2 separate regions of the Homo sapiens genome follow, and region 2 is linked to region 1. The links come from fine-mapping of genetic effects on gene expression. A gene starts in region 1. The other region holds a variant in brackets. All regions are shown on one strand. Distances are from middle to middle.

Region 1 (15,405 bases):
TCAGAATTAAAACAGAAGCAATAAAGAGGGAATTGAGGTACCAAATTAGGGCATTTCTGCAGTAAAATATTAAAAATTTGATAATTAATTAGATGTGTAGGCAGTCAAGGCCAACTCAGATTTGCAGCTTGAAGAACTGGATGGGTCGTGATGCCAATAATGAGGCTGGAACATGTAAGAAAACAAATAGGTTTCAAAGGCTAGAAAAGATTATTAGTTCATTTGGGGACATGTGGCATTTGAAGAGTTTATGTGACAAAGATGGTTGTATTAACAACTATAAAGGAAAGCAAAACATATCTTCCAGGGAATTTATAATCCAATAACTATATTTGCCTGTTTAAATTACTGAGAAAGCTCTTCAATTGCTCCAGTTGCCAAATATGAACTAGGTCATAGGTGAAGTTGAAGTCTCATCTTTGATGTTTGTATTTTGGATTTTAAACACAGCATTTAGATGAGATCAGCAAATATATACTGCCAGGGCGAAGCATACTATCTTTGCAGCAGTTCCAACTCTTTACCTTTTACTGTTGGGATTTCTCCAATCAAGTTCACTGGCACTGAATTCCAGCAAACCCTCAATTCTTTTTCTTGACCAAGGACATAACTCTAGAATAATACAGGGGTAAACCGCCCTGGAGGAGAAGAGTAGTCAGCTGTGTGGTGAGAAATAAATCTATCACTTCCTTAAGAGAAAGTTAACTCCCTGGGAGAAAGAAACATTCCTAAGAAAATGAACACATCAACTTCACTGCATTCTATGGAACCTTTATTTTAAAAAGCATTATTAGAAGAGATAGTAAAAAGAAACATCCCAAGTCTAAAGTTGGCATCTACTGTAGTGTGCTTTAGACTGTAGAACATGGGAAGGTTGAGCATTTTGGAAGTTTTTTAACTAGACATAGATGGCACCATAGTTTTTTACCAAAATATGGATCTATCACTTCCAATGGCTTATTATAACCAAAAACTGTGGGTTTAAAGATCTTTTATGGCTGGTCTAACCTACTTTCCATTGCCCTCTTACTTCTACATTGACCCCTTAACACCCTTTAAAATGCCTCTTATTCTCACTAAAGGCTCTTTCCAGCCTCAATGACAAGTACTGTACAAAATGGCAAATTAAATAGAATATTGTTTTTGCACCTATCATATATGATACAATCATTCCCACCCAAAGTTATTTATTATATGAAGCCCTCTCAGATCATTCCTGCATAGAAACTATTCCTCCCTCACCCAAATGTGCATAGCCCTTTGTCTGCACCTTCTGAATTACACTTATCTTTTTCTAATCTATATTATAGTAATTTGTGCATGTTACATTGCCCCATTTGAGAAAAAGATAATCCTGATTTATTCCAAATATCCTAGCATGATGGCTTTGTGTAAAGTTGGTATTCATTGAATATTATTAGAAAAATGATTGGGCCAGGTGCAGTGGCTCACGCCTGTAATCCCAGCACTTTGGGAGGGCGCGGTGGGTGGATCACGAGGTCATGAGTTCAAGACCAGCCTGGCCAAGATGGTGAAACCCCGTCTCTACTAAAAATGCAAAAAAATTAGCCAGGCGTAGTGGCAGGCATCTGTAATCCCAGCCACTTGGGAGGCTGAGGCAGAGAATTGCTTGAACCCGGGAGGCGGAGGTTTCAGTGAGCCAAGATCGCACCACTGCACTCCAGCCTGTGCGACAGAGTGAGACTCGTCTAAAAAAAAAAAAAAAAAGAAAAAAGAAAGAAAAGAAAAGAAAAGAAAAAGAAAAAGAAAAATGATTGAGTGAATGAATAAAGTACACATTTCTTTAGAAAGACTGTGCCTCTTCCAGAAGTATGTTGAGTCTAGGATATCTCAGAAACTAGTAACTCAGGATCCTCAATATGCTTCTGTAAAGACTTTTTGTCCTTTGCCAGTCTCATTGGCCAGAAGAGGTCTCATGCCACGACCTTTGAACTGACAGTAATGAAAAATGTTAGAGCCTAGAAAGACTATATCGTGGACACAATTTCAATTTTCAGCATATTGCATGTCCATTTTCTCTATATAATAATGTCAAAATTATCTGATGTTAGCTTTTAAGACTGTGCAATACAACTTTTCTTATTATTTGTATATATCACTAATCAAAAGAAAATCATTTCTGGTAAAGACATAAATCCAATTCCTGTAATTCTAACACTTTCTTCATTGTAGTGAAGTTATCAGAACCCCTGTGATAAGTCCTTTAGAGGGCACAGAATTCATCTACAAAGTCAAGAGTATGATAATGGGTACATTATCCTTCTCCCTATGCTTCTAACATTAAGAGGTCTATGTACCTTGATGAAAGCAAAAAGATAAAAAGAAAAAACCACTGAGAATTTCCTCTGTAGAGGAAGTATTTCAATTTTAACAAATTTCTTTTCTTTTTTCTTTTTTTTTTCTTTTTAAGACAGAGTCTCACTCTGTCACCCAGGCTGGAGTGCAGGGGCATGATCTCAGCTCACTGCAGCCTCTGCCTCCTGGGCTCAAGGGATTCTCCTGCCTCAGCCTCCCAAGTAGCTGGGATTACAGGTGCATGCCGCCACACCCGGCTAATTTTTGTATTTTTAGTAGAAATGGGGTTTCACCATGTCAGCCAGGCTGGTCTCGAACTGCTGGCCTCAAGTGATCTGCCCGCCTCAGCCTCCCAAAGTGCTGGGATTACAGGCGTGAGCCACTGCGCCCAGCATCAATTTTAACAAATTTCTTTGGACCATTTCAAACAGGCTATATAGAAGTGCATAAAATATATGCAAATATTAATGAGTTTCTAAACAACCATTATTTTGAATACTTTGATTGGAATCTTCTTGATGGAGTCCACTGGGCTACAAACTTCCTTTAAAACTTAAATTTTTGTCTTAGTAAACCAAAAGGGAAGAAGTAGTCTGGCCAAATTTTGATATGCCTAGAAAATGTAGGCTAATCCACCATTATGTTTGAAAATGGATACTTCCCTCTGAAAGCTTTGTATCTTTTTTAAAAAGCTGTTTTTCTCAAATGGTATCCTGTGACAAACAATTGTACTAAAAATACTATTTTTTCAAATATAAATACATTGGTATATATTTTTTCAAATATATACCAATGTGTTCCCTTATTGTACTTTCCCTTTGTCCAAATTAATAGTTACTTAAAGCAAAAGTCTAAACAGAAAAGATTTTCTTAAATTACAGCAAATATGTTTTAAAAAAAAACTATGGAGAAGTGAACTAGTTGCAGGCCATAACGTTAGGAGTGTGTGTGTGGTGTATGTGTGTATGTGTATGTCTTAGAGTGGTACAAGTGAGTGGTTTTTGCTATGTGTAATAATTCAAAGAAATTAATTGGAATTACTTTTTCTTTTTCCCCCTAAGTGGGGTATACGTATTTAAGATTTCTAAGGTTCTTAGTTTTTCTAAGTCTTACTACACTTCAGTTAAATACAAACCATAAAACATATTTCAAGAGTAAATATATTTAGTGGTAATTTTATATAATATTTTTATTTTTCAATAATGGTTGCAAATTATATTGCATATCAGAAAAAAATAGCCTCAATTAATAATCCACAAGTGTCTTTCAATCCTGACAGACCTCACTTTTTAAATATTAAAAAGAAATATTATAATATGTAAAATAATAAAGTGTCACTAAGTTATAAAATGTATTATTAACTTCCATTATGTTGCCCTGTGATAATATCTCAACTGATAAATAGTAGGATTATGTTATAGAGTTTTATGTTGTCATATATTTATTTTTCCTGGGAGGATTTTCAGATGATGTCTTACATTGTTTTATTATTCTCCAATAAAATAAATTAATAAGGCTAATAATAATACTGCATGTTGGGTACATTAGCAAGGCAGTTTGCCAGGGTTGTTGTTTGCTCTCTAATTTTTTTTTCATAAAAATTGTCCAAAATAAAATAAGAAACTAGCATGACCGTAAAATATACTTCACAAATAAGGTAAAAATTATACCAACTCAGCATATTACATATTCAGTATAATTAACATTATTCACTTTCCAGCAAAGTTTTTGAGTAGGTGGCAATTTTGTAAATTTAAAATTTGTAAATAGTTTTCTCTTGCAAAAGAAAATAAATGACAGCTATAAAAATCAATAGAAGTAAGGATTATCATAGGAAAATAGTTTCAGAGATAGTAATTACAAAACTGTATCAACAAGAAACAATGGCATAAGAAGATAAAGTAAATAGCTAGCTGGAAAAATGGTATACCCATTATTCTAGATATACCAAAATTTGTGGCTAAAATTTTGTTTAAGGTATTTTAAGTTTCAGATTATTCAAGTCATCCTGCTATTCAAAAAGAAAAAAAAAAGAAAGGAAAAGAAAATGAGAAAAGAAAACCCTCTTTCATTGAGTGGGGGTTTCTTGGGAGGAGAGGTGTTCACTAAATGTTGTAAACAAAACCTTGCCAAAGTCAACCCTTATGTTACTTATCACCTTCAAATTTGCTTCTCTGATTGTCAGATTTCATGCAAACTGGTTCCCTCCAGGAATCCCCCAGATGCTGTGGAGCACAGACCAAGCATGGTCTCCAAAAGACTTTTTGATTTCTTACTATACTAAATACAGGTATGTCAGGATGGTCTTCTTTAAAAATAAGGATTTAAAGTATCTAACCTATCTTATTAACATTAATGTGTAGCCAACATAGAAAAAGAACTATTCACAAGTACATCCATCTCTCCCTACATGCCCTCCTGCTTATCATGCATATCACTATAGTCAGAGTCAGAGGCCAAGATATTTCCACGCTGATGATTTAAAGCCCCTCTCATTAGCAATTGATATCTGAATGTATCACTGCAGTAATTCCCAAGGCTGTGCTGGGATGATTCACTACACATTACACTTCATTCAACTTTAAATGGCAATGAGATAAACAATTACCATTTGCCAATTACCTCATTTTCAATAGACAAATTCAGGATCAATGTTTACAGCCTTTTAGTTTTGGATGTTCAACTTCAAAAAAAAAAACATCCACATTAAACTGATCAGTACCTCAGGTAATGAATAGTAAAATAGTAGTATCCGCCATCATGCATGGTAAAACACAGCAGTGGTGATTTTGTGTGGCGCTTCAGTGGTGTGGTAGTGGCAATGGCAGGGACTTGAAGTTTTCCTATAATATTTATCATTATTATCTAAAAAAGACATACGTAATAACATTACACCTCATACATAACATCTAACACATTTAGAATATAAAAGGGAAAAGAATGGCTAGATGTAAAGATAAAAACACTTATGAAGTGACCAAATATCCACACCAACTACCATGATTAGACTAGATGTCAAAAATAAAAACTGAACAAAATTAAAGTGATTCATTTCTTTCTCATGTAAACTTTTCCAACTATCCCTGAAGCATAAGTCCAAGACTTGCTTCCCACCCAAAGATAAGACTGTGTATTTAGACTACTGGAGTGGAAATGAAATTAGTATTGCTCTCCCATATCAGCTCCAAGAAATATACAGAGTAAAAGCAATGACACTTGAACCACTAAGAAGGACTTTAGGATAAATGAGTTTCTCTGAGTCTCAACAGAAAAATGGAAGACAGTGCACAGAAGCAAGATAAGCTAGAAAGAAGATGAGGATATTCGTAGTGAAACCAACTGAGAGCATTTGTTAGGGGTGGTAGTACAGACTCCTAATTACAGGGTTAAAGCCAGCTAGGAAGATCCACAGGGTCAAGTAGAGAGCTTGAAAAGCCTGAGAAGGAGTGGGGACCTGACCGTGGTCCTGAAAGAGAACAACTTGCAGATGATAACGAACCGTCTGCTAGCAACCACACAACATCCTATCTATTTTTTTTCCTACTGTAGCTTAAATGAGCTAAATGTCCAATAATATTCGTACTCAAAAAAAAAAAACTAAAAACTTTCTCTTATCATCAAATCGTCTTTATTCATGTCCTTCTTCCTGAACAGCCTCTGCTTGAGTGTTAGGCTCATTTAAGGATTAAAAGATACGCTATTCTAGCTCAAAAGCAGGAATCAAGGTTCTGACAAACTCACAACACTTAAAATTCTACAGAAAGCTTACACTTGGCAATCCTGCATTTCTTAAACTCAGATAGAAAATCATACCTATCCGAAATATATCACGGAATGAAGCTCCAAGAAAGAACACTCCAAGCTCTCCTTTTGATCTAGGGAGCCTTGAAACTCTAGAAAGATTAGGTACACCGATATTCCCCTTTTCACCTCAGAAAATTACAACCAATTCCCTAAAGATACACCAAAATGCAGGTCCCACAGTGAATACGGGCGTCGGTCTTTCCTCAGGCTGCGTTTCAGTCCTTAACAAACCCAAGAACTCAAGAGAGCCAACTATTACACCAATACAAAGTGTTAATACTACACCAAACCATGAGGGAACAAATTTCTCCGCACAAAAGATACCTTGGCAAGAACAGAAGAAAATTCACTCCGCTGGTGCAAAAGGGAAGGTGGGAGCAAAAGTAATGTGTACGAGAAAAATCAGTCTCAGAAAATGCCATACCACTCGTTCAAGTGTAAGACTTACGTGTTCCGTCAAAACGGGTGGCGATGGTGTCCAGGAAGGTGTTTTGCGGCGCCAGTAATCCTTTCATAACCGGCATTTTTCCAGCGTGGTGTGAAATTCTCCATCAAAGTTTGTCCAGAAGGATGGTTCGAAAGGAAAGTGCCAAGAAGGGAGAAGGGGAACCTGATGACGGCAGGGAAGGGGGACCCGGCCTGACGGCGGGGCCGAGCAGGGGAAGTGGAAGGATGGAGGGAGAAAGGGAGAGAGTTCCAGCCGCCCCGGCTGTGGCAGGAGGAGCCCCAAGAGCGCTCCCCGAGCCCGCCCCGCACCTCCAGGCTCAGCCCGGCGCAGGCTCCCTCTCCCGCCCCCTCCACCCCCGCCAGCTGCTGAAACCCCCCCACCGTCCCTCCGCGGGCAACAGTGCCCGCCAGGCGCCGCCGCGCGGTGCCTCGCCCCCCACGTCGCCCGCCCGGAAAGAGCCCGCAGTGGCCCGGGGCGCCGCGCCCTGACCGACGTCTCTGGGGTCTGGGAGGGCGGCGCTGAGAGCTGGGAGAGGCGCTGAGCCTCCCGGTCTCCACGGGACGCCGGGAAAGGAGAGCGAGCGCAACTCCCACGCCCCGGGAGCCAGTGAACAAAGACCCCTTTGTTCCCTCTCCGTCCCACTCCCGGGGAGACTGGAGTCCCGTGGGTGTGGTATTGGAGAAAGGGAGGAGACAGGTCGGGGCAGGTATCCGGCCTCAACCTAGAACTTAGGAGGGGGAGGCCCCCCAGTGGTGTCCAAGGGAGCAGAGGCAGCCAGGAGCCCCACGGGGAGGCGGCCCCCTTCCGGAGCACTTGCCATTGCGAGCCCACGCGACAGGGGCAGGGCAGCCCGAGTTAGTTGTGAGGCCCATCCCCAGTCACCAGGGTCTTTTAGTCCGGGAAACTGGCCCCGAGCTCCAAAAAGGGGTGCTTCAGCCCTTCTCCCCAAATTGCCATTGGCCTCCCCAAGCCATCCCAAACTTTAAAAAAATAGCCTTTTGAACGGACAATGGATGGTTTCCCATTCTCCGGTAAAATGTGAATAAAGCATTTCTAGAAAAGTTTGCTATTTTTATTAATTTGCAAAATACCACGTAAGTAAAAACAGTAAGGCTGCCTTCCAAAAATAGCTTCAAACACAAATCCCCTAGCCTGCCCCCCTTTCCCCAGCCCCCACTCCCGAAGACTGACACCTCCAAGAAGAAAGCCTGGCGGACGGCCAGGAACTGAAGGCGTCTCAGAAAACGAAAGTGGTCTCTCCCAGTCCTCCCCCCTGGCCCCCCCCGCGGGGACTCCCTCTCGGCCAACGTTCTGCGGGGAAAGTCGCCCAAGCCTGCGGCACAGCCCTGTGGGGAGTGCAAGGGGACACCCAGAGCCCGAACTTTATAGAAAACTCTGCAAGGGAGGTGGAGTGTGGAAGGGAAGTTGAGAGCCCCAGGGTAGAAAAACAAACGTAAGCCCAGGTGCTAGTGCACCCGGAAGGAAAGGAGGGAAAAAGCAAACAGGTGTCAGAGCCGCGGCGAGGCAGCTCTGATCTCCAGGAACTCGGGCGTGGCGGGAGGAGGGAGGGAGGGCCCACCCCCCGCCCCCTTACTAAGGGGGTTTCTTGTTTCAATTATCTCGGCTGTTGGGGCTTCGGGGGGGACCCCGCGGGTTTCGTCACGTCTGCCTTGGGCTCCGGGAGGGAGGGGGAGAAGAGAGAGAAGCGGCATCCCCCTCTCCCCGCCCCCAGGCCCCCTTTCTCGTGATGCACTTCCTGCGGCCGAGGATTCCCTTTGTGTTGAAATTCGAGAAGATCCGGCAGAGGCTCTAGGCTAGCTGGGCGGGGGCGCGCCGGGGAGGGGACAGGATTCCGGAGTGGGCGGCGCGGGGCGGCCATCCCAGAAGAGAAGCTACCAACGTGGGGTTCCTCGCCCAGCTGCACCCTGCTTCTGCCGCAGGTCCGTCCCTGTCCTCCCCTCAATCCTTGTGTCCCACCCCAGCTTCGCTTTTCGGAAACCGAGCTCACGCGGGTGGAGTCCCCCACGCGGCGAGCCGATCGCAACTGCAGGTGGCTATGTGGCTCAGTCTTGGGCGGAGCTGGGGAGAAAAAGATGAGGGAGTCCCTGTTGTTTGGGTGGCGCATCGTGTCCCAGAAAATTCAGGCTGTTGCTGCCGATGTAAAACGGAGATAAACGCCACCCGTGAATTGGCTCGAAGTTCAGGATGAAATGTATTAGTTGTAAGCTATGACTGTGGTTCATAACAATTTGCACTGTAGGGCCGTGTGTGTAAAAATTGTTTCCTCGTGGTCCTGATCTGTTACCTAATATATGAAATCACTGCAAGAAGCAAGCCACATAGTGGCTTAAAAATGACAACCCAAAAGAAAGCCCCAGTTTCATGGCAAAAGGAGCCTGGCATTTATCATTCACTGTCTCCCCTCCAACACCTATTATGTGTCAGGAACTGTGCTAGGCATGGCAAGATCCCTGCCCTAAATTCAAATTCAAGCCCTGTATTCTACTGAACTGCAGTAGATGGACCTAACTATCTCTTATATCCTTTGCCCACCAAGAAGTGTTTCTTAATGAAGACAGCCATCACCACTCTGGTCTTGAGTTCCAGGCCCTTTTTAAGTTCTAGCCCGAAACCTAATGTTCATCCTAAGGGTTTGTGGCATCAGTGAGGCCAAATTGTGCCATTAGAACATGACCTCCATCCAAGTTTAAGTATATTAAATCCCTTTAAACATGTTTTGCCACCTGGAAAGCAAAGACCGTGAAAGAAGCACCATGGGAGTCTGGAGTTTTCACTATCATCTGCCCCAAATCACCAAATCTCATGTGCTTTCCTTAAGGAAATTTTCCCACTGTCCCCACTTATTGACACAAAAAAACCCAACTCATTTTGTTGCAACTCATTTTATTGACACAAAAAACCCCAACTCATTTTATAGTAGATCACACACTACAGGGATGTGATCTTTCTCTACGGACTAAACGAGACAATGCTACAAGAATACAGGATAACCACACAATAGAGTAAACTTAATGCCCTCATTAAAAATATTGATGTTCATGACAACACATGGACACAGGGAGGGGAACATCACACACCCGGGCCTGTTGGGGGCTGGGGAGCTGGGGGAGGGATAGCATTAGGAGAAATACCTAATGTAAATGACGAGTTGATGGATGCAGCAAACAAACATGGCACATGTATACCAATGTAACAAACCTGCACATTGTGCACATGTACCCTAGAACTTAAAAGTATAACAATAATAATAAAAAATTCATGTTCACAGAAAAGATATTTTTCTTTCACTTTAAAATGTAAAGGAAGGCACAAAATCCCTATAACCAGACCAAGGTACTCTATTATGTACTATAGAAGGCCTCTAGGTAAAACCAACCTAGGCAAAGTTCACTGATACAATAAACTGCCCCAAACCCTACTGACTTAAAATGTCAACAATATTGTATTTTGCTTTCAGATCTCCAATTTTTACAGGGATCAATGGGGCAGGTTATTTCTGAGTACACTTAACCTGGAACTGGAATATACACTTCCAAGATGGTTCACTCAAAGTTATGGAAATTTGGTGCTGGCTTTCAGCTGGGAGCTCAGCCAGTGCTAGGGCCTTGGGGCTTCAGTTATTGGTGTAGATCTCTCCAGGAACTACTTGGGCTTCCTCACAGCATGGTGGTTTCCAGAGTGTCTGAAGAGACAGGAAGTAGGAACTGCCAGTTTCTTAAGGCCTGATCTAGAAACGGCCAGATTGAAAGCAAGCACAGAATCCAGGTTAATCAGAAAGGGGGAAAAGTCCAACCTTTAGATGGAACAAGTATCAAATAAAATGGAGCCATGTTTTAAAATCTTCCTATCAATTTGTTAGTATTTTGAGTTTCAAAGGAAGTTGCCTCATAACAGCATTCCTTAATGTGATTAAAAATCCATTTTTACCTATTCTTTATGTCTCCATAAGCATTTGAGATTTATGGGTACAAGATCTGGGTTCAACTCTATAATTCCTTATAGGGAAAATGTAACACACAAGAGAGAAAATACACATTAAATTCACTTAAGAGTTATAAGCCACAGATAAAGCAATTTTTATTCTTATTTTATTTAAGACTGACTCTCATTAGCATTTGATGTTGTCTTTTCAGACTGACTGGAACTGGAAAAAGCTTCAGGGCTCTCTATATTAGTTTGATGGTTTTAGGTCGGCTTCACGTCTGTTTTCTAATTATAGCATTCATCCAATACCATGACACAAAATAGCTGCAAATGCCTTATTGATGCATATGTATTTGACTGTAGGCACTGAAAATATTCTTAAACTTTTTCTGGCAACAAGAATTTTAGCCTTCGCAAGAAGGCAATATTTTAATTTACAGGCATCTACTCAGATGTATTGAGTTCTAGTTTTGTTTCAACCACTTATCCCCTTTGTCATTTAAAGTTTGTGGGTTTCCATTTCCTTAACTGTAAAACTGGGATAATAATACTTTCCCTACTTACTCCACTGAGTAGAAGAAAATATTTATGAAAGCCTTTGAATCTCATAATATGTGGCATACAATAAAAGGGATGATAATAATCATTGTTCTCTTTTTTATGTTCTAACATATCTAATACAAGTTGTTTATCCACAATAAATATTGTTGACCAACTATGACAGTTTATGGTCCTGTTAGCTCAGAACACATTTATGTATTAATAATTTGTTACAACCTATGACTGGTGAGCTTTTCCTTCTAAATATAAATGACTTTAGAAGCTCAGAAGGAAAATCAAGCAGTTCATTTCTTTGACTAACGCTTTCAAATTGTTGTGCTCTTATATCCAACCAAGCTGGATTCCAGTGGTATGTTCACTGCCTCCTCTTCCCCAGTGTTCACTGCCTCCTGTTCCCCAATGGTCACTGCCTATTTCTCAGTGTATGTAGAAACTAAAATACTCCAGCACAATCTCCAAAGCTATGGTTTCAGTCAGAGTAATCTAGGTTATGCCTCAATAAAAAACATAATATCTCAATGGCTTATTACAATAATGCTATTTCTTGCTCAGTCTACATGTCCCACCTGAGTTGGTAAGAGCCTGCTCATTATTGGGGCCCAGATTGATGGAAGTTCTGCTCAAAAGGTATTTTCTTTGAAGAGAAAAAGATAATCCGGCAAAGCATATACTGTTTTTTCAAACTTCCACTTACAACTTAATGACCAAAATAAGTCATATGGCCATCCTAATTTTAAAGAGGTGGTAAAATACAATCCAACCCTTGCCCTCAAAGAAAAGGAACTCTGGAATATTCAAGAACTGACATTTAGTAGCAATAGAGGTGCACTGTTTGGATCTCATGTCAAGAGAACCTGGTGGGAAAAGTGTTGCTGATGACAGTCTTCAGCTGCCAAATCTTCAAATCTGCCACACTGTCCATGTCAGCCGATGACCAAACGTGATGCCAATAGTAAAGTTCAGCCCTTTCTATCCTGTGTGGGGCTCGCCTAATAGGTAATCTCTGTGCCAGGATTCCTCATTAGCTTGACAAAGACTTTCTCAGTAGTGCACCATTCTTCCTACCCACTGTTCCTTCCCTCTCCTTCCGAGATGTCAACCCTGCATCACAGTCTGAAAACTCTTCCTGCCCCCCCACCTACCTTTATCCTTTACATGCTCTTTCTTCAGTGTCAACTCCTATCTTGGTGTCTGCTTGACGGAGGATCCAGATTGACCCTGGCATATCAGGGAGGTTTTCTGAGAAGAAAGAACCATGAGCCCATTTACTAAATTCTACAGCTAACAATGAATCTTGAATAGAAAATAAACAAAAAACATCTCACATGTATCTTTGTTGCCTTCACTCCAGCACATTCTTTTCCTTTGCTCCCTATTTTTCATCCATGATTCACCACTAGCCCAAAATACAATCTGGGAACCAGTCTTGATTATCCTCTCTTTACATTAAAATAAATAATCTATCACTAGTTTCTATTACCTCTAGCTTCATAAAATCTGTAGAATCTGTCCTTTTTCCATTTTCCACTGTCACTCTTTTAACTGATATACTCATTATTTCTTACTATAACTATTTCTCTTAGCTGGTCTTCCTGCCAGAAAGCATTCTTCTTGAATTCCTCCTTTATACTGCAGCCAGCATGGTGTTTTTCTATAATATAAATTAATCATGTACTCCTTCCTTAAAATCTTTGTATCTTTGAGGACAGAGCAAAATTATATCACCTATTAGTTGAAGCCATTCAATAACTGTCCTCGACGTAGCCCTCCAGCGTCATCTTTTATGCACATAGCAAGCTAACTCCTCCATGATTTTATGTTTGACACTTGCTCAATTATGTACAATTCCCAGAACATGATATCTTCTTTCAGGACATCTCTTTAACATGCTGTTACCCTTATTTCAAATGACTATCTCATACTCGCTAACTTTCCTCATCAGTTGAACTCATGACCCAAAGATTACCTTTAACATCGCTTCCAGTGAAACCTTTCTTTGAATTTTCTAATCAACTTAAGTACTCATTTTGTATGTGTCCCTATATTAACTCGCATATGCCTCTGTTATAACCCTTACTTTATAGGTATAGGTATGTGCCTGAATATCTACATAATATAAGTGCCTTATATTAACTAGAATTCTGCTTGTCTGCTAGTAACAGAATACTTGCCTTAAAGTGGGTAAGAGTGGCTTAAACAAACAGGGTTATTCTTCTCTAAAATAACTGGTCCTGGGGTGGTTAGTTGCAGATATAAATTCAAAAGCACAACAATATCAGTCATTATTTCTGGTTATCTTGACCTTTTCCTCATGGTTGCAAGATGGCTGCTAAAGTTCCATCCAGTACTTCTTTGGTCTACTATCAGAAGTGAGGAGGAGGTAGTGCTGGCTGAAACCAGCTCTTTTTATTAGGAAAAGTTAAAACTTCCTTGGGAAAACCTCCTTTTCCTCTCAGGACATTTCTGCTATTTCTCATTAGCTAACACTGTGTAATAAAGATGTCTTTAGCTACAAAAAGAATGTGGAAGTGATTAATTACCCAGGATTTATAAAAGAAAGAAGCAAGGTCTAACAGTTTAAGAATGCGTGTGGGTCAACCAACCTACCTAGATCTTCTGCCACATATTTCAAAGGCAGTTAGAAACAAGGTGTGACATGAACAAACGTCCATAATATGGATGACATGCAGGTTTTATATACACTTCAATCCTAAAAATTAATAGCAACTACTAGGCTTTCTGTATTGAAAATAATTCCTAGATGGCTCCCAGACTCATCAAGAGAGTTGAAGAACAATTAATAATGTCTACCATGGGCATGGTAGAAAATCTTAGGGATTCAGATCACTGCAGTAGACCTGGAGCTGTTAGCTCTGTAGCAGATTCCTAAGAGCCGTATTTGTCCCCATCTCTCCATTGCAGAGGAAAGTGAAGAAGTACTTACTTACCCTATGATTTAGTGCTATATCTCTCATTTTGATCACTTGTTAGTCAGGCTATGTTAGATTATTTTGTGGTAGCAAATTAATACCCTACCTCAAGTTTAAGTAAGTTAACCACCAAAATGTAATTATCACTTATAAAGCAATAGAGGGGGCTCTTCTTTACACAATTACTCAGGCACTCAGGCTGATGGACACTCATCCATGTTACAGTTGCACATCCAGAAACAGAGGCCTCCATCATGATCACTGAACAGAAAAGTCACCTGCTATCCTGTGATTCAACCCAGAAATTATACACATCACCTCTTCCTAAAGCTTACTGACCAGAATTACTCATATGCTTTTACTCACCTATGAGAAAGAGCACCCGGAAAGTACTCTGCCAAATCCCCTCTATAAAAATAAAAGATGATACCACCAACTCAGACTTTTCGTGATATTTAAATGACTGAATAATATAAAACACACAGAATAATGACCGAATTATAGTAATAACTCAATAAATGCAAGGTATTACTATTTTAGGTAATTCCGCATATATTCCCACCTTCAGAATTCAGGTCACTGCAACAGACCTTGGGCAATAGTTCAGTAGTAGATTCCAAGAGGTACATGGTTTCAACCAATAGTATTCTCAACTCTTATAAATTTTCACAGTGGTCAAGTTACATAAGGAGGAATACATTCCATATCTTACTGCCATTCAATGAATCTGAGCCTCTTTGGAAGAGTGGAAGGTGAAAAGTGGAGATAATACTGCTTATTTATTTATTAAATCTCACCATCTTTCTCTTGTTTTGAAAATTTCCTGCCACAGGAAACAACATGTCCCTCAGTGCCTATCCAATTTTCAATACTCTGTTCAGGCTTGTTACACAAACACTGGAATCCCAGTCTCATCAGACCTTAATGGTAAATACCTTCCATTTTTGCTCTCTCCTGTACCAGTGTATGTATACACTGTGTCCATCCTACTTTCTTTTCTTCCAGAAGATTAGGTGTTCTCTCCAAAAGTAATACACAGCCACCTGAAATTTTCATTGTCTGTTTCCAGAATCATGTTCCATTTGTCCTCCCCTTCTGTCCTATATCTTTGTTTCTGTCTCTTTTTCTCTCACTACTTGTTTGTTCTCTCAACCTATAAATATTCCAGCTATTCTAATCCTGAGACATATCCTTCCTTGATCTATCTGATCTTTCACATTTCTTTTACATGTAAATTTCCTGAAAATCCATCTAAAATTATTTTGATCTTGTTGCTTCTTCAACCATTCTAAAAAGATTTATCAAAGTCAATAATGACGTAATTTTCTAAAATAATGGACATTTTCAATCCATATATTCCTAATTTTTTGTTGTCTTTGACTCTGTCAATTCCTTCTTAAA
Region 2 (15,405 bases), 41 kb after region 1:
TCCAAAGTGGGCTGGCATCCTTTTCTTTTCTCTCTGTATGTCCTACTGCTCCACCCCTTGAGAGGTAGAGTCTTTCTTCCATTTTCTTGAATGTAGGCCAGTCTTGTAAAATCCTTTTAGCAATAGATTGTAGAAGAAATGAATCTGTGCCAGGTCCAGCAATAAACCTTAAGAAGTCTGGTAGCTCCCTCTCAGGAAAGCCAGCTGCTGTGCTATTGAGAAGTTCAGATGAAACTGTTAGATGGGGGAAAAATCATGTAGTGAGAGAGAGGAACACCGAGGTACCAGACATCTGAGTAGGGACTTCTCGAACTCTCCAGCCATGCCGAGACACTGGCTGAAGCCAGATAAGTGAGTGATTATCTATGTATAAAGAGAATCATCTAGCTGAGACATGCCTAAATTCCTGACCCACTGAATAGTGAGAAACAATAAATTGTTGCTTATTAATCCACTCATCTTTGGAGTGGTTTGTCATGCAGCAATAAATAATTGCATTAAAAATAGAATATACCTCATGTGGTTGTTAGGATTAAATGAGATAGCAATAGTTAAACAATTAGTACCCTAAGGTGGAATATTCCAATTTAATTCAAATGTTGCCAGTGACTGCACAGCATCAGTGAGTTAGAGTTCTAGGGACCTCTCCTTCTGTGGAGCTTACCTTCTTGAAGAAGCAGACAGAAATAATAAGTAAATGATATAGTTTGTTAAAATGTGGTAAATACTATGGGGAAAATAGGAAAAAACAATAGAGCAAAGTAGATTGGAAATATGGAGTTGGAGGAAAAAGGAGACAGTTTTCAATTTTAAATAGGATAACCAAAATAGTCTTTATTAAGAAGATTAAATGTGAGAAAAAGAAGGTAAGGGGATGAAGGAGCTATCCCTGCACATATGAAGAAAACAATCCTGAGAAAGGACAGAGACAATACAAATATCTTAAGGAGGAAGCATACTTCGAGTGTTCAAGCCTCAGGAAAGAGGTCACAGTGGCTGGAACACAGTGGACATAGAGGAGCACGTGAAGAGATAATGTCAGAATGTGGGGACCTGTAGAATATTGTAGGCCTTGGCAGTCCTAGAACATTGTTAAAGAGATGTTCCATATAATGACGGCAGTGCTCTTTTCTTTCAAAAAACTATAAATTGGAAATTCAGCAACAGTTGAAATACCTGGTATTATTTCCTTCCTAACATCTATCATCACCTGCAAGTGTCTTGCTTTGTTCATTTGTTTACTTGTGTAATTGCCAGTCCTACTAAAATGTAAGATTTATGAAAACATGGACTTTCCCTTTTTATGTCATCACTGTATCTACAAACCCTAAAAAAGCCTCTGTCACAAAGTAGATGCCCAAGAAATATTTTTATTAAAGGAATTCATGGGGCCAGGCACGGTGGCTCACGCCTGTAATCCCAGCACTTTGGGAGGCTGAAGCAGGTGGATCACCTGAGGTCAGCAGTTCAAGACCAGCCTGAGCAACATGGTGAAACCCTGTCTCTACTAAAAATACAAAAATTAGCTGGGCACAGTGGCGCGTACCTGTGATCCCAGCTACTAAGGAGTCTGAGGCTGGAGAATCACTTGAGCCCTGGAGGCAGAGGTTGCAGTGAGCCGAGATTGTGCCATTGCATTCCGGCCTGGGCAACAGAGAGAGACTCTATTAAAAAAAAAAAAAAAAAAAAAAAAGTAAGGAATTCATGGAAGAAAAGAAATTATGAATAACAAACATCTCTCCAATATATCATAATTTACAAAAGGCTTTTACATAAGTTATCTCATTTTAACCTTACAACACTGTGAGGTAAATAACATTATTATTCCATATTATAGAAACGCAGAAAGTTTAAGAATCTTGCCAGAGGGGTTCTTTTCAGGACCAGATGTAAGTGAACTGGGCTAATTTTAAGAGGTATTCAAAGCTTTTGTTTGCATACTGTCTGGTTTTTTTTAAAAACTGTCACATTGCACATTTTAACTTTATATATAAATAAATTATATATATATTTAAATAATTACAAAGAATGTGATTTCTAAAATAATAAATTTCGAAGTCTTTTGTATGTAACAAATCCAATACAACTATAAAAGCTATTTGATCCCCACTATTGTCCTTAAAGCATACATAAAAAGTTTTCTTTAACAGTTGGAAATCTTTACATATTTCTTTTTTCTTCCTTGATCTCGAATTTCCATTCCATGTCCTCCATAGCACTTTATCTTTAAAAAGTTGGAAACTCAGTGATCCCCAGACCCCAGTTTGAACACTGCTGCCCAAGACAACAGTCTGTAGAATTGCCCAATGTAATAAGGAGATAAATGAATGTAATGATAAAAATTAGAGTCTAGAAACATGACCTCAAAGAAATCATGAGGCATGGAGATCCAGGAATTGCTTTATAACAAGGGCACAAAGTGGCTGAAGCAGGCAGTTCAGTACCCAAGTCCTACAACTCTGGACTGCTGGGGGTGGAGATGAGAGTGGCAGTGGCAGGAGTCTTTAAGGGCTGGAGTCTTTAAGAATTATTCACCTTTAGATCACTGGAAAATTTTATGTGAAACTTCTCTTTGAATCTTATGAGATAATGTGATATGAAAAAAATTATAAAAGAAGGTCCATGTAAAGGAAATCATACACCTGTATGTGCTAGTTTTAATATTTTCTTTGTTTGATGACAAGTAAAAAATGTGAGACAATATAGAGCTACACCGTCCAACATGGCAGCCACTAGTCACATATGGCTATTGATCACTGGACATGTTGCTAGTCAGAATTCAGATGTGCTGTGTGTGTGCAATGCACACTAGATTTCAAAGATTTAAAATAAAAAAAGAATGTGAAATCTCTCATTAATAATATTTTGTAATGATTACATCTTAAAATGGCAATACAGGAATATATTGGGATAAATAGAATATATTATTAAAATTAATTTCAAATTTCTTCTGACTTTTTAAAATGTAGCTATTAGAAAATCTTAAATTACATACCTGCTTCGCATTTTCTCTGGGATAGTGCTGAGGTAGAGCTTCTTATTTATCCGAGAATTTTTTAATTAAATCATTTTTGGATGACTTTAAGGTTACTTAATTTTAGCATAAAAGAAACTTTTATAACCAGGAAAACAATAAGGTTGCTATATAAAATTTTAAAAGATAATGATATAAATAAATGCTCAAGATATATTAACTAAAGTATCACTAAAACATCATAGTACATCATGCTCCCAAGTTTGAAAAACAAATTAAACACACATAGATAAAATAACAGGGAAGCTCTTCACAAAAATATTAATAATAAATTTTCTCTTAATAACAGTAGTATGTGTGACTGTGGATTTTTATTATATGTTTGTATTTTCTAACTATCCAAAATATGCATATATTATTTTTATTATTAATTTTAAAATAGCATAATGGGAATATGTCTTTTTATTATCTAATTACAAAACAATAAAACTGTATATAGAAAAAAATGAACAGAGGCAATTACAAATATTTCTATTGTTTGGAGCATATAATATCAAAACTAAATTATGTGACAAATGATAAATATTTTAGGGATACATATAGTTCCTTTCCTTCCTGGTCCATTATCAATGAGGACTTCTTGCTCTCTTCCATTGTCATTAAACTTCAAAGTAACAGGCTTCAATCATAGAAGGCATCACATTTTCTTGAAAATAACAGGAAAAAAGCCAGAAAAAGCATTTGCTCAAATTTTCAAAAACACTGTTTGCAAGAAAAATCTGTCTGCTTGGCTACCACACAAAAGACTGAGCATATGTAAAGCATTTTATGGAGCCGATCCCAATACAACACAAAAATAGGAATTACTTTGTTGATCTGCTCAGATCTCTGATATGGCTCCAAATATCCAACTAAAGTTTACCAGCACAGAGAATGGAAAGTGAAGAGGATTTTCCAAGAATTTGCATTCTCAGCATTTACTTTTTAAAATTGTGTTTAGTTCACTAGAGCACTGATGTTCTAATTATACTCAGATGGAAGGGAATTCTGCAGTACCCCAAAGTATCTAACCTATAATCAAGGAGCCATTTCCACCAGGACAAAGTAAATCTGTTTGCAGGTATATCTCAGACACCTCAAACATCTGGTTTATAACCATCTAACCACATGATTCCTTTAAGGGGTGAAGATATGTAACCCAATATATGAGAAACACTGATGTCTGAAGCCTTCTGATTGGCAAGAGCAAAAAGACTGCTTAATTAAAAAGTGGCAAAGTAGTCTAAACTCAGCAAGAAGGCAACTTCTCAGCCTTCATACTGACCACTGATCTGCTTTTTAATCTTCTCTGGCTTATCAAGTTCTTTCTTTTCTTAATAACTACTTTATTAGTTCTTGTTGCTCCTGAGGCTGTGAGAATGGAGGAAGAGGCTTGTATGAAAATTCCAAGACTATGCTGTTCATACTCTGTCCAGTGGTTCATTTTAATAGCCATCACTTATGGGGTCAAAGTTGTCAGCAAAATAAGACTCCTCCATTACACTTTGTTATTGCAACTGGCATCATAAGATACAAGTCACTTGATACAGATGTGGCAGGAAGTGAGTGAAAGACTGCCATTTTGGAAAATGTGATATGTGCTGTAATGGAGAGTTGTACATATGTCCAAAATGTTCTAAAAGCAGAGGGTACAGAGTGATGTAGAGCAATTCTTTTCTGCTTAGTGAAAAAGGCTGTGGGTTTGGAGAAGACTTCACAAAGAGCTGTGAAATCTGGGTCCGTTTTTGCCAGGCAGAAAGTTGAAAAGAAGTGAAGAGGATGTCCTAGACCAGAGGTTGTCAAATTTTAACCCAAATCACTGGGTCTCGCCCTAGAGTTTCTGATTGAGTAGATCTGTCATAGGTTCCCATGAGTTCCCCAGGTCATGCTAATTCTGCTAGTCCGAGTGTCTTATTTTGAGATCCACTTTTCCAGGCTAAGGGAACATCAAATATGTATCAATTCTATGACAATGACTCCTTTTCCCATCATCACCAATCTATAATACAAATTCTCGGGAAAACTGACCAAGGAAAGAATGTGTGGCATTGTGTCTAAAGTTAAGCAGACCCTTAGGAGGAATCCTTTGGAGATTTCATCTTGGTTCTTATAGATCTAGTGGAACAACAACTCACTTAGTACCTGGTAGTTTCTTAGTCTTCAATAGGCCTGGCAGATGACAGTTTGAAAGCTGTAGTAGGAAGGAGATGAAATGGAGAAAAAAAAATTGTGCTATTCCACTGTGTGAATACAAACTCTTTGGTGGACTGGAATGGCTTTTTGGATGATGGAACAGTTAGAAAATAATTTTTGTTTTGAGTATAAACTTTATTGATTATGAAAATTTGGGTGTTAAGCTTTGTTCTAGGGAGATATATGCTTTCAGTGTGTGTGCAAGTGTTATGATCAGTTATCCACTGAAAACCTGAAAAAATGAAAGAAGCATAAGTGCAACTTTTTTTTTAAGTTGCAGGGCCACCTTTAAAATGACAGAATTTGACGGGGCTATGCCCAACCTGAATTTTGCCGGGGGATCTTGAATACCAAAGTCAACCTGAACTGTTCTTCACGCATCTCCAGGAAAGTATTCTAGATGTAACTCAGAACGAGAAAATGAACTGTAGGGGTACGGGGATGAAGACTAGGGTAACTCTAAAAACCTGTGTGGGTAAGAGATGAGTTTCCCAAAAGGTAGATCAAATTTTCATACCTGAGGTTAGATGACATTACTTTCTTAAAAGAAAGTAAATCCAGAACAAAGATAACAAGACTGGGAAATAAGTCACATGTACAAACATACTCTCTGCAAAGGATTTTAATTTGGGGGTGCTTTTCCCATTGACTATGGGAAATACAACATGTAGCTCATAGCTTTAAGTTCTTTCTATGTCAGTTAATTTGCTTTAGCTTTTTCTAAGCCTACCATATAGTCTGACATGTTCATAAAACTGTGTGTGTGAGTGTGTGTGTTTTCAGATGGAGTCTTGCTCTGTCGCTCAGGCTGGAGTGCAGTGGCACAATCTCAGCTCACCTCAGCCTCTGCCTCCTGGGCTGAAGCGATTCTCCTGCCTCAGCCTCCTGAGTAGCTGGGATTACAGGTGCCTGACACCATGCCCGGCTAATTTTTTTTTTTTTTTTTTTTTTGTATTTTTAGTAGAGACAGGGTTTCGCCATGTTGGCCAGGCTGGTCTTGAACTCCCGACCTCAGGTGATCCACCCACCTTGGCCTCCCAAAGTGCTGAGATTACAGGTGTGAGCCACTGCACCCAGCTGTGGTGGCCTTTTTAGAGGAAATAAGGAACTAAACCATAAGGGGAAAAGAGTCTTGACTCCTGCAAACTAACAATTCCCTTTATGGAGACCTTTTCAAAGGTGTGTGCATCATGTGCACCACAAGGAAGACTGAAATACATGGATCCTATTGATGGCAGCAGTGGCCCATCTGGAGCAGCTGCTGCCATCATGCCAGCTGCAGCAGGGAGGCGTGGCCAGGGTTGCACACTCCAACACTCAGGGAGCTGGCAGGAGCCAGGGACTAGTGAAAGCCCTGCTTCTTCTGAGTCAGTGGGGTGGGAGCTCCCCGGCACAACTCTGCTGCCCAAGTAACTGCTGCAGAGCCAGGCCTCCTGCTCCAAGGAGCAGGCAGAAGTCCTGCCCCCTAGGCGTGGGTGCAGTTGCCCAACCCATGGCTGCAGACCCAGGCATCTCTGCACTCTTGAGGACCTAGGAAGGCCCCCACTGCCCTCACAGGCTCAGAAATGCATACTCCCACTGCCTGTCTTCTCCCTGCTCTCAGCATATGCTCTGATCTTGGAGCAAAATTGGGGCCAAGCTGGGCACTGTCACAGCCCACCAGGTGTGCACACACTCAGAGTAGCACTGACATACCAGCCCTCTGCTGCCTCAACCCCCTCTGGACTTTGGGCACCAATAAGCATAGGAGGGAAGCTGAGGTGGCACTGAGGGCAGCTTGGCACGGGCCTGCAGGCACCTCTTGGCACCTACAGCCTTGGTGCCATGAATGGCAGCCGGACACAGGTTCCTGGGCAGAAGGGGGCAGTCCCTGGTGTGGCCCCACCTTCAGGCCAGGGAAGGCCTGAAGGTTGGGGGCTGGGCTTCCAGTTCCACAAACTGGAGTGGGAACTTGTGCTGCCTTTTCCGGCCCACCCATGGCCACCCATGGACGAATTGGTGTGTAATTCCTCCATTCTGAGGCCCATAAAAGTCCTGGGCTCAGCCAGAACTGAGCAGACATCAGGATGACCACCTGTAGAGAGGAGCTACCCACTCCAGGGCCTCCTCTCTGCTGAGTGATGCAGATGTTGGGATGACCAGCTGCAGAGAGGAGTTACCCACTCCAGGGCCTCCTATGCTGAGAGCTGCAGATGTTGGGATGACCAGCTGCAGAGACAGGAGCTACTCACTCCACGGTCTCTCTCCTGAGAACTGCAGATGACAGGAAAACCAGCTGCAGAGAGAAGCTACCCTTTCTGCTGATAGCTGAACAGTTGTTGGGATGACCTGCCTGCAGAAAGGAGCTACTCTCTCTGCTAGGAACAGAACACTCATCAGGACACTCTGGCTGCAGAAAGGAGCTACTGCCTGTGGATCTTCTCTGGGTTGTTCTATTGCTCAATAAAGCTCCTCTTCATCTTGCTCATCCTCCACTTGTCTGTGTACCTCATTCTTCCTGGTCACAGGACAAGAATTTTGGACTTGCTGAACGGTGAGGCTGAAAGAGCTGTAACACAAACAGGGCTGAAACATGCCCCTTGCTTGCCATGTTGCAGACAAAGAGAAGGAGAGTTGCAGTCCTTCAGGAATCCCAAACCTGGAAGCTCCCTGAGCTGGTGCTGTGACTCCCTCTTTGGAGACTTGTGGTTCCTGGCATCTCCAAGCTTCTCGGTGCCACTGAATTCCCCAGTGCCAGCCAGGGAAGCTGCTTGCAGTGTGCCTGCTCCAGCCTCAGTCTTGCAGAGAGCCAGTGTCTATGCCATCACCTGGAGCTACCCATTCTGTGGCAGCAGCCAGAATGTCCAATTGTGTGCAGTGGCCAGACCTCATGCTTGGTCACACACCTCTTGCTGCTCCATGCCTGACTTGCCCTTGGCAGGCTGGTAGTGTGAGCCAAGTGCAGCCTGCCAGGCTGAGTGAGCAGAATGAGCCCAGCAGGCCCAAGCAAAACTTGGGCAAAGGCATCACTGGCCACAGAGGTTTCTGTCCAGAAAAGCAACACCTCAAAGATCCCATAACACTTTGCCCCAAACAATTACCAAGTCAGTCAGTGACTCAAGGGGTCCAGGACTGGGTGAATAACTTAAGAGAAGGTATAAAGGTGTTTCTCAGGCACACACATTTTTACTATAATGAAGAGGTAGTAACGTAAATGGAAGTGAAAAGCTGACGGTTTGGAAAAATTTAACACAACATATTGCGCAACCCC[T/C]TGCCGAGGGCCTTAGAAGGAACTCCTGGGATTGAGGCCCTGAAGTTGAAGTTTCATTTGCTTCACAGTAAATCTGCTTGACACATTGCTCCACTTCCCTCAGGATCCCACAACTGGTACCTCACTCTCCAGCATCCTACTTTTCTGTCTCAGGTTAGCAAGTCCCCACCTTTGAAATAAGATCATCATGGGCTGGAATTTTTTTTTAACTCAAAGTTTAATATGTATACATAAAAGTGAACATTTCAAAATTATACAGATTGATGGTTTTTCACAAACTAATTTCATTTTTGTACCAACACTCCAGAAAGCCCCCTTTCCACTCATGATACCATCTCCCAATGTCCAAGCAATCATTACCCTGATTTCTACCAAGTAGAATAGTTTGCACATAGGTTCACTTTATTATGGAATCATACAGTACATACACTATTTTTCTGGGTTTCTTTCTTTTAATATTATGTTTCTGAGACACATCCATATGGTTGTGTTTATTTGTCAATTGTTTATTCTCAATGATATACAGTATTATATTGTGTGAGTATGACTTATTTATCTAATTTTTGATGACCATTTTGTAGTTTTGTGTCTTAGGATATTAAAAATATTGCTGCTATAAACAATCTAGTACATATCTTTTGTTAAGCTTGTGTGTACATCTATTGGCGTGTGAGTAAGTGTGGAAATACTGGGTCATAAAGTATAAGATTAATGAATACTGCGAGACAATTACTGAAGTGGTTATACTAATTTACACTTCTACAAACTGGTATGAGGGTTCTAATCATTTCATACCCTGACCAAAACTTGATAATGTCTTTTTCATTTTGGCAATTCAAGTGAGTATATACAGTATCTAATCATGGTTTTATTGGAATTTCACTTATGATTGATGCTATGGATCATTTTTTCAAATATATGTGGGATATTTTGTTATCTTCTTTTGTAAAGTATCTCTTCTAATCTTTTGTACATTTTTCTGTTGGTTCATCTGTGTTTTTCTTACTGATTTATAGGAAGTATTAATAAGTTCAAGATAGAAATGATTTGTGGGATACATGTATTCCAAATGTCTTATTTAACTCAATATCTTGCTTCTTGATTTCAGAATGGCACCTTTTGATTTAGGAAATTCTTAAATATAATCTGATTTATCATTTTTTTCTTTTATGAATTGAGCTTTTTGTATCCTGCTCAAGAAATTCAGGGGTATTCCAAAGACATAAATATGTTATTCTATACTTTCTCTTAAAGTTGTATGTTTTATTTTCATATTTAAATATGTAATCCATCTAGAATTAACTTTTGTGTACAGTGTGAGGTATGAATCAATCTACTATTTTTTCTCCATATGGATAAACAATTGACTCAGCACTATTTATTGAAATTAGCATTTTTTTTTCACTACAGGTCTGAACTGTTGCTTTTGTTACATATCTGGAAATTTGTTTTATAGTTTATTAATATTCTGAAATACAGGAATGAAGTGGGTGCTCAGGAATGAAGGACAATGGAACAGAAAAAAAAGAATTAAATTCAGGTGCATATTATTGTCACATTAATTAAGGCAAGGGCTACAGAAAACACAAAAGGAGCCAGACAACAGGCAATCAAGTGTCCTCCAATAAACTGATTAAGATTCTTGGAGAACCATGTTTACAGGCTTAGGTCCCTGCCCATCAGTCATGGGAGCCTTCTTCATTGTTGTAGAAGAAATCTTTGGACTAAAAGAGCATGGATAATTTTCAGAAAAAACAATCTCCTCAGTTGTAAAATGAGGATAATAATTTCTATCTCATAGGGTTAATTTGAAAACAAATAAGTAAATCTATTTAAAACTTTGAGAAGTTTGTCCAACTTATATAGAGTGATATATAAAGTTTTAACAACATTATTGCTGTATTTATAATTACAGTCCTGAATTTCCCTCCTCAGGCATAATTTTTGCTGTTTCCACAAAAGAAAGAATGTATTAGTCCATTTTCATGCTGCTGATAAAGGCATACCTGAGACGGGGTAATTTATTAAAAAAACAAAGTTTAGTGGACCTACAGTTCCACATGGCTGGGAGTCCTCACAGTCATGGCAGAAGGTGAAAGACACATATTACATGGTGGCAGACAAGAAAGAATGGGACCTAGACTCCTGGACAAGATGGCCAAAATAGGAACAGCTCCAGCTGCAGCTCCCAGTGAGACCAATGCAGGAGGTGGGTGATTTCCACATTTCTAGCTGAGGTACCCAAGTCATCTCATGGGGACTGGTTAGACAGTGGGTGCAGCCCACAGAGGATGAGCAGAATCAGGGTGGGGTGTTGCCTCACCCAGGAAGTGCAAGTCAATATCATACTGAATGGGCAAAAACTGGAAGCATACCCTTTGAAAACCGTCACAAGACAAGGATGCCCTCTCTCGCCACTCCTATTCAACATAATATTGGAAGTTCTGGCTGGGGCAATCAAGCAAAAGAAAGAAATAAAGGGTATTCGATAGGAAGAGAGAAAGTCAAATTATCTCTCTGCAGAGGATGTGATTGTATATTTAGAAAACCCCATCATCTGAGTCCAAAATCTCCTTAAGCAGATAAGCAACTTCAGCAAAATCTCAGGATACAAAATCAATGTGCAAAAAGCACAAGCATTCCTATACACCAATAATAGACAAACAGAGGGGGCAGGAGCCAAGATGGCCAAATAGGAACAGCTCTGGTCTACAGCTCCCAGCGTGAGCGACGCAGAAGACGGGTGATTTCTGCATTTCCATCTGAGGTACCAGGTTCATCTCACTAGGGAGTGCCAGACAGTGGGCGCAGGTCAGTGGGTGTGCACACGGTGCGCCAGCTGAAGCAGGGCGAGGCTTTGCCTCACTTGGGAAGCGCAAGGGATCAGGGAGTTCCCTTTCCGAGTCAAAGAAAGGGGTGACGGACGTACCTGGAAAATCGGGTCACTCCCACCCGAATATTGCGCTTTTAGGACCGGCTTAAAAACGGCACACCACGAGATTATACCCCGCACCTGGCTCGGAGGGTCCTACGCCCACGGAGTCTCGCTGATTGCTAGCACAGCAGTCTGAGATCAAACTGCAAGGCGGCAGCGAGGCTGGGGGAGGGGCGCCCGCCATTGCCCAGGCTTGATTAGGTAAACAAAGCAGCCAGGAAGCTCGAACTGGGTGGAGCCCACCACAGTTCAAGGACGCCTGCCTGCCTCTGTAGGCTCCACCTCTGGGGGCAGGGCACAGACAAAAAGCAGTAACCTCTGCAGACTTAAATGTCCCTGTCTGACAGCTTTGAAGAGAGCAGTGGTTCTCCCAGCACACAGCTGGAGATCTGAGAACCGGCAGACTGCCTCCTCAAGTGGGTCCCTGACCCCTGACCCCCGAGCAGCCTAACTGGGAGGCACCCCCCAGCAGAGGCACACTGACACCTCAGACGGCAGGGTATTCCAACAGACCTGCAGCTGAGGGTCCTGTCTGTTAGAAGGAAAACTAACAAACAGAAAGGACATCCACACCAAAAACCCATCTGTACATCACCATCAGCAACGACCAAAAGTAGATAAAACCACAAAGATGGGGAAAAAACAGAACAGAAAAACTGGAAACTCTAAAAAGCAGAGCGCCTCTCCTCCTCCAAAGGAACGCAGTTCCTCACCAGCAACGGAAGAAAGCTGGATGGAGAATGACTTCGACGAGCTGAGAGAAGAAGGCTTCAGACGATCAAATTACTCTGAGCTATGGGAGGACATTCAAACCAAAGGCAAAGAAATTGAAAACTTTGAAAAAAATTTAGAAGAATGTATAACTAGAATAACCAATACAGAGAAATGCTTAAAGGAGGTGATGGAGCTGAAAACCAAGGCTCGAGAACTACGTGAAGAATGCAGAAGCCTCAGGAGCCAATGCGATCAACTGGAAGAAAGGGTATCAGCAATGGAAGATGAAATGAATGAAATGAAGAGAGAAGGGAAGTTTAGAGAAAAATGAATAAAAAGAAATGAGCAAAGCCTCCAAGAAATATGGGACTATGTGAAAAGACCAAATCTACATCTGATTGGTGTACCTGAAAGTGATGGGGAGAATGGAACCAAGTTGGAAAACACTCTGCAGGATATTATCCAGGAGAACTTCCCCAATCTAGCAAGGCAGGCCAATGTTCAGATTCAGGAAATACAGAGAACACCACAAAGATACTCCTCGAGAAGAGCAACTCCAAGACACATAATTGTCAGATTCACCAAAGTTGAAATGAAGGAAACAATGTTAAGGGCAGCCAGAGAGAAAGGTCAGGTTACCCTCAAAGGGAAGCCCATCAGACTAACAGTGGATCTCTCGGCAGAAACCCTACAAGCCAGAAGAGAGTGGGGGCCAATACTCAACATTCTTAAAGAAAAGAATTTTCAACCCAGAATTTCATATCCAGCCAAACTAAGCTTCATAAGTGAAGGAGAAATAAAATACTTTACAGACAAGCAAATGCTGAGAGATTTTGTCACCACCAGGCCTGCCCTAGAAGAGCTCCTGAAGGAAGCGCTAAACATGGAAAGGAACAACTGGTACCAGCCGCTGCAAAATCATGCCAAAATGTAAAGACCATCGAGACTAGGAAGAAACTGCATCAACTAACGAGCAAAATCACCAGCTAACATCATAATGACAGGATCAAGTTCACACATAACAATATTAACTTTAAATGTAAATGGACTAAATGCTTCAATTAAAAGACACAGATTGGCAAATTGGATAAAGAGTCAAGACCCATCAGTGTGCTGTATTCAGGAAACCCATCTCACGTGCAGAGACACACATAGGCTCAAAATAAAAGGATGGAGGAAGATCTACCAAGCAAATGGAAAACAAAAAAAGGCAGGGGTTGCAATCCTAGTCTCTGATAAAACAGACTTTAAAACAACAAAGATCAAAAGAGACAAAGAAGGCCATTACATAATGGTAAAGGGATCAATTCAACAAGAAGAGCTAACTATCCTAAATATATATGCACCCAATACAGGAGCACCCAGATTCATAAAGCAAGTCCTGAGTGACCTACAAAGAGACTTAGACTCCCACACATTAATAATGGGAGACTTTAACACCCCACTGTCAACATTAGACAGATCAACGAGACAGAAAGTCAACAAGGATACCCAGGAATTGAACTCAGCTCTGCACCAAGCGGACCTAATAGACATCTACAGAACTCTCCACCCCAAATCAACAGAATATACATTTTTTTCAGCACCACACCACACCTATTCCAAAATTGACCACATACTTGGAAGTAAAGCTCTCCTCAGCAAATGTAAAAGAACAGAGATTATAACAAACTATCTCTCAGACCATAGTGCAATCAAACTAGAACTCAGGATTAGGAATCTCACTCAAAACCGCTCAACTACATGGAAACTGAACAACCTGCTCCTGAATGACTACTGGATACATAACGAAATGAAGGCAGAAATAAAGATGTTCTTTGAAACCAACGAGAACAAAGACACAACATACCAAAATCTCTGGGACACATTCAAAGCAGTTTGTAGAGGGAAATTTATAGCACTAAATGCCCACAAGAGAAAGCAGGAAAGATCCAAAATTGACACCCTAACAACACAATTAAAAGAACTAGAAAAGCAAGAGCAAACACATTCAAAAGCTAGCAGAAGGCAAGAAATAACTAAAATCAGAGCAGAACTGAAGGAAATAGAGACACAAAAAACCCTTCAAAAAAATGAATACAGGAGCTGGTTTTTTGAAAGGATCAACAAAATTGATAGACCGCTAGCAAGACTAATAAAGAAAAAAAGAGAGAAGAATCAAATAGACGTAATAAAAAATGATAAAGGGGATATCACCACCGATCCCACAGAAATACAAACTACCATCAGGGAATACTACAAACACCTCTACGCAAATAAACTGGAAAATCTAGAAAAAATGGATAAATTCCTCGACACATACACTCTCCCAACACTAAACCAGGAAGAAGTTGAATCTCTGAATAGACCAATAACAGGATCTGAAATTGTGGCAATAATCAATAGTTTACCAACCAAAAAGAGTCCAGGACCAGATGGATTCACAGCCGAATTCTATCAGAGGTAAAAGGAGGAACTGGTACCATTCCTTCTGAAACTATTCCAATCAATAGAAAAAGAGGGAATCCTCCCTAACTCATTTTATGAGGCCAGCATCATTCTGATACCAAAGCCGGGCAGAGACACAACCAAAAAAGAGATTTTTAGACCAATATCCTTGATGAACGTTGATGCAAAAATCCTCAATAAAATACTGGCAAAACGAATCCAGCAGCACATCAAAAAGCTTATCCACCATGATCAAGTGGGCTTCATCCCTGGGATGCAAGGCTGGTTCAATATACGCAAATCAATAAATGTAATCCAGCATATAAACAGAACCAAAGACAAAAACCACATGATTATCTCAATAGATGCAGAAAAAGCCTTTGACAAAATTCAACAACCCTTCATGCTAAAAACTCTCAATAAATTAGGTATTGATGGGACGTATTTCAAAATAATAAGAGCTATCTATGACAAACCCACAGCCAATATCATACTGAATGGGCAAAAACTGGAAGCATTCCCTTTGAAAACTGGCACAAGACAGGGATGCCCTCTCTCACCACTCCTATTCAACATAGTGTTGGAAGTTCAGGCCAGGGCAATTAGGCAGGAGAAGGAAATACAGGGTATTCAATTAGGAAAAGAGGAAGTCAAATTGTCCCTGTTTTTACATGACATGATTGTATATCTAGAAAACCCCATTGTCTCAGCCCAAAATCTCCTTAAGCTGATAAGCAACTTCAGCAAAGTCTCAGGATACAAAATCAATGTACAAAAATCACAAGCATTCTTATACACCAATAACAGACAAACAGAGAGCCAAATCTTGAGTGAACTCCCATTCACAATTTCTTCAAAGAGAATAAAATACCT

The links. PIP is the estimated chance that this variant, and not a neighbour inherited with it, causes the effect.
Region 2: its variant is the best candidate, but not a certain one, in a credible set for the expression of KCNH8 in testis (GTEx, PIP 0.85).

Annotation. Positions count from the first base shown.
Region 1 is chr3:19,139,959-19,155,363 of GRCh38, reverse strand. It overlaps KCNH8 (potassium voltage-gated channel subfamily H member 8), which reads right to left and starts at 6,854. Exons shown (of 16, transcript NM_144633.3): 1 at 6,569-6,854. The coding sequence starts at 6,644. RefSeq lists enhancers at 7,412-8,005, 8,006-8,599 and a silencer at 8,293-8,464.
Region 2 is chr3:19,099,068-19,114,472 of GRCh38, reverse strand. No RefSeq gene overlaps it. Among named protein-coding and RNA genes, the nearest start is that of KCNH8, 42 kb to the left of the region's middle. The variant T/C (reference allele first, on the strand shown) is at 8,457.